Regions from separate parts of the Homo sapiens genome. Here region 1 is linked to region 2. The links come from fine-mapping of genetic effects on gene expression. A gene starts in region 2. The other region holds a variant in brackets. All regions are shown on one strand. Distances are from middle to middle.

The links. PIP is the estimated chance that this variant, and not a neighbour inherited with it, causes the effect.
Region 1: its variant is fine-mapped to the expression of CREB5 in whole blood (INTERVAL, PIP 0.94).

Annotation. Positions count from the first base shown.
Region 1 is chr7:28,676,826-28,682,207 of GRCh38, forward strand. All of the region lies in intron 5 of CREB5 (cAMP responsive element binding protein 5), which reads left to right. Among named protein-coding and RNA genes, the nearest start is that of CREB5, 270 kb to the left of the region's middle. The variant C/G (reference allele first, on the strand shown) is at 3,335.
Region 2 is chr7:28,409,486-28,414,867 of GRCh38, forward strand. It overlaps CREB5 (cAMP responsive element binding protein 5), which reads left to right and starts at 3,033. Exons shown (of 11, transcript NM_182898.4): 1 at 3,033-3,432. The coding sequence starts at 3,430. RefSeq lists an enhancer at 3,030-3,119.

The DNA.
Region 1 (5,382 bases), 270 kb after region 2:
AGACTAGGAATATTGCAAAATAAACATCTGGAAATGTTGATAGTAAACATAGAAGAGAAATGTCTTGCAAAACTAGCCACAGGTCAGGAAACCCTAATCTTATCATGGGTCCTGGAGACCATAATGCCATAGACTGTTCAGATGGGTGTTATGTTACTGTGAACACAGATGTTTTCTTTCCATCCATTGTGGGCATCCTGTTTTGGAAAAGTCACTATAGCCAATGTCTAAAGGCTTGATCACTTTAGGACAGATTACTAAATACTTTTTATCTTAAAATAGAAGAGGGGAAAGGAAATCACAGCTCCTTTAGAGCATGGACAGCAGAGACATATGAATGTATTTATATATTTTTTTCATTTACGTTATCAACTTAATTAATTTATTTATAAAATTTCCATGACCATAGGATGACCACGTAGAAGTGTGGACTATGGATCACTAGCATCAAAATCTCTGGGGAGTTTTGCTTAAAAATACATATTCTGTCATAGCACCACAGAAATAAGGCCCCACCTTGACCTATATAATCTCCAAGGTAATACCTGGAGACCTACGTTTTAATCTATTCCCCAGACATTCTCAGGCACACCACATCTGAGAACCACTGACTGATGTTTGCTGGTTGGAGTGCCAGGCCAAGGGTCAGCCTTCAAGGGATTGAGATTCATGTCTTCGTGCCTGCTTTTCTTTACCTGTAAAAGAGCATAGCTTGAAGTTTAATACAAAGTGAGCATACTTTTTCTCTTGGGGGTTTTTAACCTGGGGTCCATGGTTAAAAGGAGGAGTCAGAGTGTTCATTAGATTTTTCAAGGAGGATTATTGCCCAAGAAAAGTATATTCTAACACCAGCTTAAATGCATGCTTTCCAGTTTGGGTGGGTGCTAAAAGAAAGGAATTGGCCGAGTGTGGTGGCACATACCTGTACTGTAGTTCCAGCTACGTGGGAGGCTGACGTGGGAATATAACTTGAGCTCAGGAGTTTGAGGCTACAGAGAGCTATGATTGTGCCTGTGAACAGCCACTTCACTCCAGCCTGGGCAATGCAGTGAGACCCCATCTCTAAAAATGAAAGAAAGAGAGAAAGAGAGAGAGAAAGAAAGGGCACTGGGATTGGCCCAGACAGTGCATGAATCTCACTTTCCTTCCCATTTCTATTAATAAAGGAAGAATTTTCAACTTTGTAAGAAATAAGAAATTTAGAATCTTTTTACTCCTAAATCTATAGAACACCTTGGACATCATAATATCTACTTTTCCTCTTGTAAGAATGGAAAAGAGGCTGGGTGCAGTGGCTCACGCCTGTAATCCCAGAACTTTGGGAGGCCAAGGCGGGTGGATTACTTGAGGTCAGGAGTTCAAGACCAGCCTGGCCCACATGGTGAAACCCCGTCCCTACTAAGAATGCAAAAATTAGCTGGGTGTGGTGGTGTGCGCCTGTAGCCCCAGGCACTTGGGAGGCTGAGGTGGGAGAATTGCTTGAACCCCGGAGGTGGAGGTTGCAGTGAGCCAAGACGGCACCACTACACTCCAGCCTGGGCGACAGAGTGAGACTCTGCTCAAAAAAAATAAAAATAAAAATAAAAATAAAAGGAAAATACAAGCCTGCATTATTTATAAATCATATAGTACTCCATGTCTAGAAAAATCAAAACTTATACCAAAGCATTTAAAAGAGTCACTATGATCATTTTATTAAAGTTTAGAGATGAATTTTACCATAAAGCAGGATTAACTGCACCTTTCTCTCCAGGATTCTGGTGTAAATAGAGAAACCACAGTCATGTATGGGCCTGAGAGGGACAGTAGAATGTGGAAGTGGGTTTGGAAACCAAAATATTATGTCAGCAGTTTTCTCTTTCATTTATTCACCCTTATCAAAACCAACTTTTTAACTCAGGGGCCCAGTTAATAAAAACATAGATAATTTCATTTGGAAGACCCAAGAGCTTCATGTTTGGGGTTTAAAAAAAATTCTTCTCATCCCCTCCGGGCAAAAGTGTTGGAGGGCGAATTCTCCTTGCAGAAACCCTCTTAATAAATCAGTGCTGGTGAACTTCTCTGCTCAGTGTAAGAGAAGGTCAGTTATTAGATAGACACAGAGCTCTACAGCTGGAATCCTTGTGGAAAGAAATGAAACCACAAATACAATTCCTTAGTTTAAGCTTGCCTTTTTATTTCTAATACCTTCAAAACCTCTTCAAACTCATTTTTACTTTTGTAGTTCTTTTTTTTTTTTTTTTTCATTTAAGCATGTTTTAACAATGAAAACAGCCAGCGGAGTATATTTTCAGGGTTATCCTGCAGATACGTAAGTAATCCTTTTCTGAGGGCCTTTATGTGGAATTGCAAAGTGCTGAGGGGAGACAGAGGGAGAATATTCAGAAAGCAGATACTGCAGTGTTTTGAACTTATCATGTGCAAAGGGACAACATTTTTCCACTGATTATGAAAGTCCCCATGAACTGCTTTTCCAGATAAAAATTCTCAGCAAATGATGGTCAGCTTCTGGCAGCCCCAAGTTTTCCTCTCTGTGAAATGGGGAGACCCACCAGGGCAGCCTTGGAAACCAGTGGCTTAGGGGTTCCAGGAAAGAGGCAGGCATTTACTTTGCAAGTTTGGCTCAGAGTGTGGGCCCTGATGAGATTTCAGGGTGTAAAAGGGAGGGGACGAAGACCAGGTGAGCAGTGTAAGGCCTTCTTAGGACCCGAGGGAAGTGGCCTTCTACATTTCTTACTTTTTGATGTTATGCCACAAAAATGCTCTGTTCTTCTCTGCCTCTACTCCAACCCTCATCCCTTGGAAAATCTTCCTGGTCAGAATCATGATGTTCCTAAGATGGTTGTCTTCCCACATTGCCTCTCCTGATTCCAGGGCCGGTAACAGTGCTTGCTTCTGGACACATGGATTAACCCAGGTCATGAGGAACACCTGGATTATAAAAGGTGTTAGTGTATCAGTACAAAACAGCGAATGGTCGCATTCCCAACTTTGGTATCAGACAACTTTTAGTTCAGCTCTCAGCTCACAGTGGCTAATTGAGAAGAAGGAAAGGCTGATGAAAGCTGACACTAAGGAAGAGTCTAGTCTGTTGCAGGCATCATTCTCCATCTCCCCAAAGAGCCAGGCAGGCCCAGAGCTTCACCTGATATTTTTCTACTAACCCTACCCATGCTCATGAGTACACAGAGTAGAAAATTATCTCCAAACGAGGCTGGGACTAAGGGGCACAAATGAGCCCCCTATGGCTCAACATTTAAGGGGGCAATTATTCTCAGGGTTGGACAATTGCAGACCTGCACCTGAGAGTGAGTACCTCCTTAAATTTTGCACC[C/G]TAGGCACCTCACTTGCTTCAACCTGGACTGGTCCAGTCACCACCCTTGGTCAAAGGGGAAAGTAGGAATTTGGTTGATAATCTCCTTTAACCAAGGTTCCCCACAGAGCCTCCAGGAAAGGCCTCTTTCTTGGACATCATCAGTTGGGTTGTCCACCTCTCCCAAGCATAACTGCTCTGAGCCAGTCTTGATCAGCTACTATGCCTTGTCTTGGCTCCACTCAACACCAGAACATGAATCAGTGTAGTTAGTCTGACAACATCATTAGGCTCCAATCCCGTATAAACTTTTACCCACAAAAGTTTGGACCTCCTTGGCCGAGCACTATGGCTCACACCTGTAATCCCAGCACTTTGGAAGGCCAAGCTGGGAAGATCACTTGGGTCCAAGAGTTCAAGACCAGCCCAGGCAACATAGGGAGACTTTGTCTCTACAAAATGTAAACAAAATTAGCCAAGCATGGTGGTGCACACCTGTAGTTCCAGCTACTCAGAAGGCCGAGGTGGGGGAATCATTTGAGCCCAGGAGGTCAAGGCTACAGTGAACTGAAATCATGCCACTGCACTCCAGCCTAGGCAACAGAACAAGACACTGTATCAACCTATCTCAAAAAAAAAAAAAAAAAATTGGACCTCCTGTTCCCCCACCATTATTTGAGTTCTTCCTGTAGTGCCCACTCTAGTCATAGAGATTGGTTAGAACTGACATCACCTTTCTTTGGACATGATAAAGTCCTGGTGGCAGTGTCTCCTTTTTTAGGGCACCTCAACAACTGTGCAAGAAGTCCCAACAGGAGAATATTTAGCTGCTCTCACCTCAAGTTCCAATTTCCCTGGGTGCCTCATGTAGGAAGCTGGTGACAATAGTCTAGGATCAGCTGCTCTGACATCCACCACAGAGTGCTCATTCTGCCATCCCTGCTGTGGGGGTCCAAAAAAAGGGAGCAAGAGGAATCTGAGGCCCTCCAGGGAGAAAAGGTATAGTGTAGGGATGGAGAAGGCTGACTAGTAGATTTCCTAGGATTTTCTTATTATAGGTTTTCTAGATGCTTCAGATCTTTAGGAAGCTGCATAAAAAGTGTGAGCAATAATACAAACAGGAAAAAGAACTTTCAGGAGGCAACATATTCAGGGAAGACCGAGCAGCCTGTGTTGCCGCTAGTTCAGGCTCAGTTACATTTCTTTTTCTTTAATTAATTTATTACTATTATTATCATTATCATTATTAGAGACAGAATCTTGCTCTGTCTCCCAGCCTGGAGTGCAGTGGTGCGATCATGCCTCACTGTAGTCTTGAACTCCTGGGCTCAAGTGATCCTCCACCTCAGCCCCAGTAGCAGGACTATAGATGTATGCCACCACGCCCAGTCCCAGTCACATTTCTTAGGGACCTACTATGTATGGGCCAGGTGCTAGGTGCTAGGGAAATGAAGATGTATAGCACAGTCTCTGCCCTGGAGAAGCAAATGGCTGCTGAAGAAGACAAGCATGAAGAGATCCTCTCCATAGCTGGCTTATTGCTGGGATACAATCTGCTTCAGGACGCCAAAGGAGCACAGAGTAATGGCCACCCTTATCCCAGTCTGGTAGCCCAGCAAGGAGACCATGGAAAAGATAATGCCTGAGCTGAGGATTGTATTCATTCATTCACTCATTCATTTATTCAACAAATATTCCAGGAGTGTCAACGGTCTTTCAGACATTGGTTTAGGTTTAAGTGGTACAATGACTTGCACATTTTAAGAAGTTAGAGAAAAAACACTATAGGAAGCAGAATTGATGACAATATTTTAGGGCTAATCAAATGGCTCTTGTGACCTCTTAATATCCACCCCCAAAGGTTTCCTGATGCCTCCACCATTATAAATTCATTCCTTTGTTTGAGACACATTCAGCATTGCCACATCCGTGAATTACAAATAGGTTTTGACACAGGAAAGGCCAGTGAATTGCCTAAGGGTACTTAGTGCCAGGGTTGGGGTATAGGAGGTGCAGTAGTTACACGACAGGAGTCACCAAGGGCAGATCACTCCCTTGTCTTCTCTCTG
Region 2 (5,382 bases):
CACTTGCCGCAGGAGCCATCTCGGGAGTGTACTTGTTTGCAGGGGTTGGTTCTCGGCAGCAGCCGCGAGGTTACTTGGTCCAGTGGGCAGGTCACAGGGCAAGGAGTAGGGAAGATGCGATGCATTTTTTTCTGGAGGGTGATCTGTGTTTGTAAACATTTTGGCGGACCAGAGGGAAGTCCGGCCCCGAGTGCTGGTAGACTGTGGAATTCGGCTGTGTCCTGAGGCCACCCTAGAGACCCCGCGCCGCGTGAGTGCCGGAGCGCTCGGTGGCCGCCGCGCCGCGCGCCTGGAGGGATGCTAACGTGGAGCCGGCGCCGAGTCCGCCCGGCGTGCGTGCGTGTGTGGGAGCGCGCGAGTCCCCTGACGCGGGGACCAGTTATGAATCGGGGGTGTGTGTTTGCCTCCAGAGACCTGGCAAGGTGCGGAGCCCTCCAGAAGTGCGGTCAAGCGGCAGCGGAGACGGCGAGCCAGGAACCTCCCCCCGCGTCCCCAGCTTCCCAGCGTGGCGGCGGAACCCCCGGAGAAAGTTTGCAAACTTCCAGCGGGCGCGGCGAGGACGCCGGGTCACCTAGGGGGCGGGTGGGCGCGCGCGCAGGGGGCTCGCTCTCCCCGGTGCGGAGCTGCAGCTGCCACCTCTCCCGCCGGGCTGCCGGCTGCAGCGGGTGGGCGCGCGCCCGGGGAGGGGAGGTCGCCCTCGGAGGGCGCTTGGCTTTCGCTCCAGGCGCTCCGGGCTGGAGAGCGGCGAGGCTCCGTCCGCTCCAGTCCACTCCTCCGGCCGCCTCCTGCCTCCGCTGCTTTCTTGCTGGCATCGTTACCTCTTCCCGGCCGCTGCCCCAAATGACAGCTCCGGCTCGAGCTTTGGCGGCGCCCAGGCAATTCCCAAGACCTGGCGGCGGAGTCTCCCCCTGCGGCAGATTCTCGGCAGAATCACTTGAACTTTTCACGAAGTTCTTAGAGGGGCAAGATGCGAAGGAAGGAACCAAGGAGATGTTTTCTCTCAGCAGCTGCATCCCGCTTCTTCTTTGCCATAGATTTATTTTTAAGGGGCGTCTGGTAGATAAAGCCCTAGACCTTGTCCACACTCTCACCCCCATCCCCAACTTTCCCTGGACCGGTGCCGCCCCCACTTGATGCTTGCTCAAGGCCGGGGACTGGAGCGGGCTACTTGTATATTTCGTTGTCAGTCTGCAGAATGTGTTTGATTTTTATTTTTCCCTCCTTCTCTGACATGTGTCAAGGAATAAAGACTGGATACAGGTCCATTACGTCATTCTGCAGGCCAGTAAGTGTTTGATTAACGGCTTGAGCTCCTCAAGGGTTCAGGAGCTTAGAATGCTGACAAAGCAACTCTGCTTTGCATCCCCCTACCCTCCCCACAACACACTCGTGCAATCGCCGGCTCCCTGGGCATCTTTATTGCCCTCTCTTCCCAGCCCCTCCCTCTCCACCACTCCCCCGTCTACACCGTTATCACTCTAGCCCCGCCCCCGCCTTTTTACAGCTTTCCCTGGGGCGAGCACGGTCCCTGGAGTGTGGGTAAAAGCTTCTGGGGTCTGAGGGGACCACTGTACCTGATCAGCGCGCAATCCGCCCTTTTGTATTATTTAAGAAAGGCACCAGTAAGCCTTCTCCTCTAGGGCGAAAATGCTTAGTCCTGATAGAAAAGGCAAATCAGGAAATGTTTGCAAGCGTTATGATAATACTCTGTCCTCGTGGTGGTGACTTAGGAAAGCAATACACCCACTGCAAACAAAGTATTTCACTTTACGTAGTGCCTGCCCTTTAGCAGAAGAGGGATGCTGACAAAATCAGGTTTAGCTGAAAGGATCAAGACTAAACGTTTCATTTCCAAAGTGAGGGAATGTGAGTCGTTGAACCTAAACTTCCATACAATAAATTGCTGCGTGCGTTAGTTTCTAGCTCTTAACCTTAAGTTTCTATGTTGAAAGAGGAAGTCGAATACGTAAGTCATTGAACTGAGTCAGAACCTCCGTATCTGGCAGTTGAAATAAAGACCCTGTGTATGACTTGTTGCAAGGGATCAAAGTAAAAAGAACCCTCGGTGTGGGGGGTGGGGGGGTGGGGGCGTGAGGGAGGTGTGCAGCAGAAATTAAATTTAAAAAAGTATTAACAGAGTTTTGGATAGAGGGAGAGAGGGGATTGGAGTGGTCCCTGATTTGGAGTTGGTGAAAACTAAATAAAGAAAAGTTTATATTGCAAATATGTGGGAATTTCTTGAAGAACACATGTTTTCTTATAATTAGATCTACTTTCTTCAAAGCGAAAGCCATGCTGTAGGGTAGGCATTTGTGAAACTCCTGTCTGGGGTCTAATTGACATCCTTCCCCAAGTCTGTGGCAGGATTTAGTATTTATTCACATCTAGAGATGAAATAGTGTAACCTCCACACAATATATGTGCATCGAAAATGTTGAACTTCTTGTTTGTGATGCATAGACTTAAAGGAAAAAAAATGGCCCAGTCATGGGCACTGGAAAGTGTGATTAATGATCAGTGATTTAGTGATCAGTGATTAGTGGTTTTATTCAAACTGTTACCTCTGACCAGAAGCACACATCAGAGGATTAACAGGCTCTTTAGATAAATGCTCATTAGTGGAAGGGGAAAAGCAAAGATAATAGGCATGCACCCAGGGACAACTTTCGAAGAAAATCATTCCCGTCTTCAGAATAATAAGCTCTATTAACAGAAAGCCCTTTTAATTTAAAACTTGCTTTTATCTTGTAAATCAAAGTTAGATGTAAAAGTTTGTAGTGCCATTATAACCTAAATTTTCCCATATCCACTAGATGTGGATTATCTCAGTAGCGATATTTTTTTTTATTTAAACAAACAATTGGACCTTTAGAGCAGCTGAACCCTGACAAGTTCTTAACTCCCAGGGTTTGAAAGTGTCCCCCCTTCTAGCATGGAGATTGCAGCTTGCTAACTAGATGGCGCACTGTTATTTGGTGTTCTCTGCTGCGTAGCGCAGGAGTATAAACTGAGCATGTAGCTGCTTGCGAGGTGTTCTTCAACATTTACAACAAAGTTGATTCTGTGTAGGGTTGGAGGCTAGACAGTTCCACAAATTTTTAGTCACATTTTCCATGTCAGTTAAATCTAGGGAGTTCAAGACTACTGGAAAAATTAGTCTCATTACTAAAAGAAACTTAGAGAACGAGGGAGGTACCAGAGTCTAGGAGGTACCTCTGGGTTGCAGAAGTAATTGTAAAATACCAGACCTGTTCTTTTTACTAAAAGCTAGTTTCACTATCTTCTGGTCTGAAATACTGAGGCAAATACTCAAGACTTATTTTCTTCCTAATCTTGCTGGTGAAACAGAAGTTACTAGAAAGAAAGGAAGAAAAAACTTGATTTGGTGACTGCAGGAAGCAACACGTTGCTGCTTTTATTCTACAGATAATGGTAAGGATGATGTTTATTATGCATATTAAACAGAGAGAAAACTTTGCACTTAGTTAAATAGAACCAATGTTGTATTTTCATAGATGGAATTCAGAAATGGAGTTTAGATTTTGCACAAAATTTTAATGTTGCTTTTGTCAGTTTCCTGGGACTTATAGCATTTTATGTGGAAGGATGTGTGTGTGTGTGTGTGTGTGTGTGTGTGTGTGAATAAGACTATTATTTCCCAGGTAAAATATGTTCAGAAGCATATGAACTACAGTGGGGAAGCTATGGAGCATGTTAAGTAATGTGTCAAGCATGAATTCCCCTTTCTGTGAGGTTTCATGAATCACTTCAATAAGTATTTAAGTTTTAATAAGAAAGTTCTTGAAAAAGAAACCTAAAAATTAAAAAAAAACAATAAAACAGTTTTCCGCATTCAAACCTAGATGTGTATGCCCCTGAAGGATGATTCTATGGGTTGAATATCAACTATTACTTTAGTTCTAAAACTTAAAAGAAGAAGTATAATAAAACTCACTTGTGTCTCCCCAGAAATGTTTCTCATTTTCCTTTGCTTATAGCATTTTATATGGATCTCTTATTTTTAAATCCTTACTGATTATAGTGGTTTTTATTTTTCAACTTAACTCATAGTAAACATATTTGAAAATATCTCCAAGCCCACTATTTTTAATGTAAATTGCTGGTGCCGATAAATTGCCTGTCAATTAGCGGTCAGTCGTGACCTTATATAGTTGATACCTGAGAAGATAGTTTATTAGAACATTCCAACAAAAAATTGGAAACCATGCCCTTATTTCTAGATCTCTGTTATGTCACAGCTTTTATTTGAATAGGTGGCTAAATGAATGGTAGTTTGTCACAGAGACTTTTCCTGCATAGATTTTCAATTCTAGTAAGTTTAAGATTTTTGTTACAATGATTTGTCAGTTTCCCACACCTGCACATTCAAAACCAATCAATCATGGAGTTTCCATGATGGCAAGTTCCTAGACTCCCAATTTCTTACTATAATCTACTTTTTAGCAATGAGGTATCACAATCCTATAATATTTTCTTGTCATTGGAGTTTACTTCTTACTAAGCTAAAAATTATTTTGTCGGTGTGTAGTGTTCACTAGATCACTAAGATGTGAACTTTGTATTTGTAGTTCATTTTCTTCTGGTTATGTTGTTGGATTAAAATTGGGATTTGAGTGGACTTATTATTTTTGTCATCTTTTCTTTCTTCTCCTTCTCCTTCTCCTTCTTCTTCTTCTAAGCAATGCAGTTAGTCACAAAATTAATGTGATCCTGGCTGGTGTTTCCCATCTATATGCTTCTTTTGCTTCTTACAAATTGGATTTCTACAGCAATTTAAGGTCTTTTTTTTTTTTAGAGGCAGCTTTCTTGGATGAAGATGGAACAGTGATCTCAGTCAATTCATTATCTTGTCCACTTTGACTACCAGCTGTATTATGGGAATCAACCAATGCTTAATTAGTGTTTAAAAATTTAAATCTATGACTATTTCTCTGAATTCTATTTAAGAAAATTATACAATTGAGATAAGGTAATAAACTGGGGGGCAATTGCCTTAAATATCTAAGTGTGAGGAAGAAGCACTTTCAGATATGCTAAACAGACTTAAAGACACAGAAGACCCTTTTTGTGTTGCTATTTGTAAAATAAGTAAGCTATCTATTTTGTGGCAATGCTTTAAATACAAAGTCTGGCACTTTAAAAATGACATCATGTTTAATGTTTTCACTAAAGAATTATTACATTTCGTAATTAGGAAAAAAATGAGCAATTAGTGTTTTTTGAGTATCCATTAGTATTCCATTGTTGAGAATCACAAATCATAGATTTAACATAGGAATTTTTTTTTTTATAAAAAGAGAGAAGCCTTTTAGAAATTTCCAGATAGTGATAGCACTCTTCCAGAAACCCCACTAAAATTTT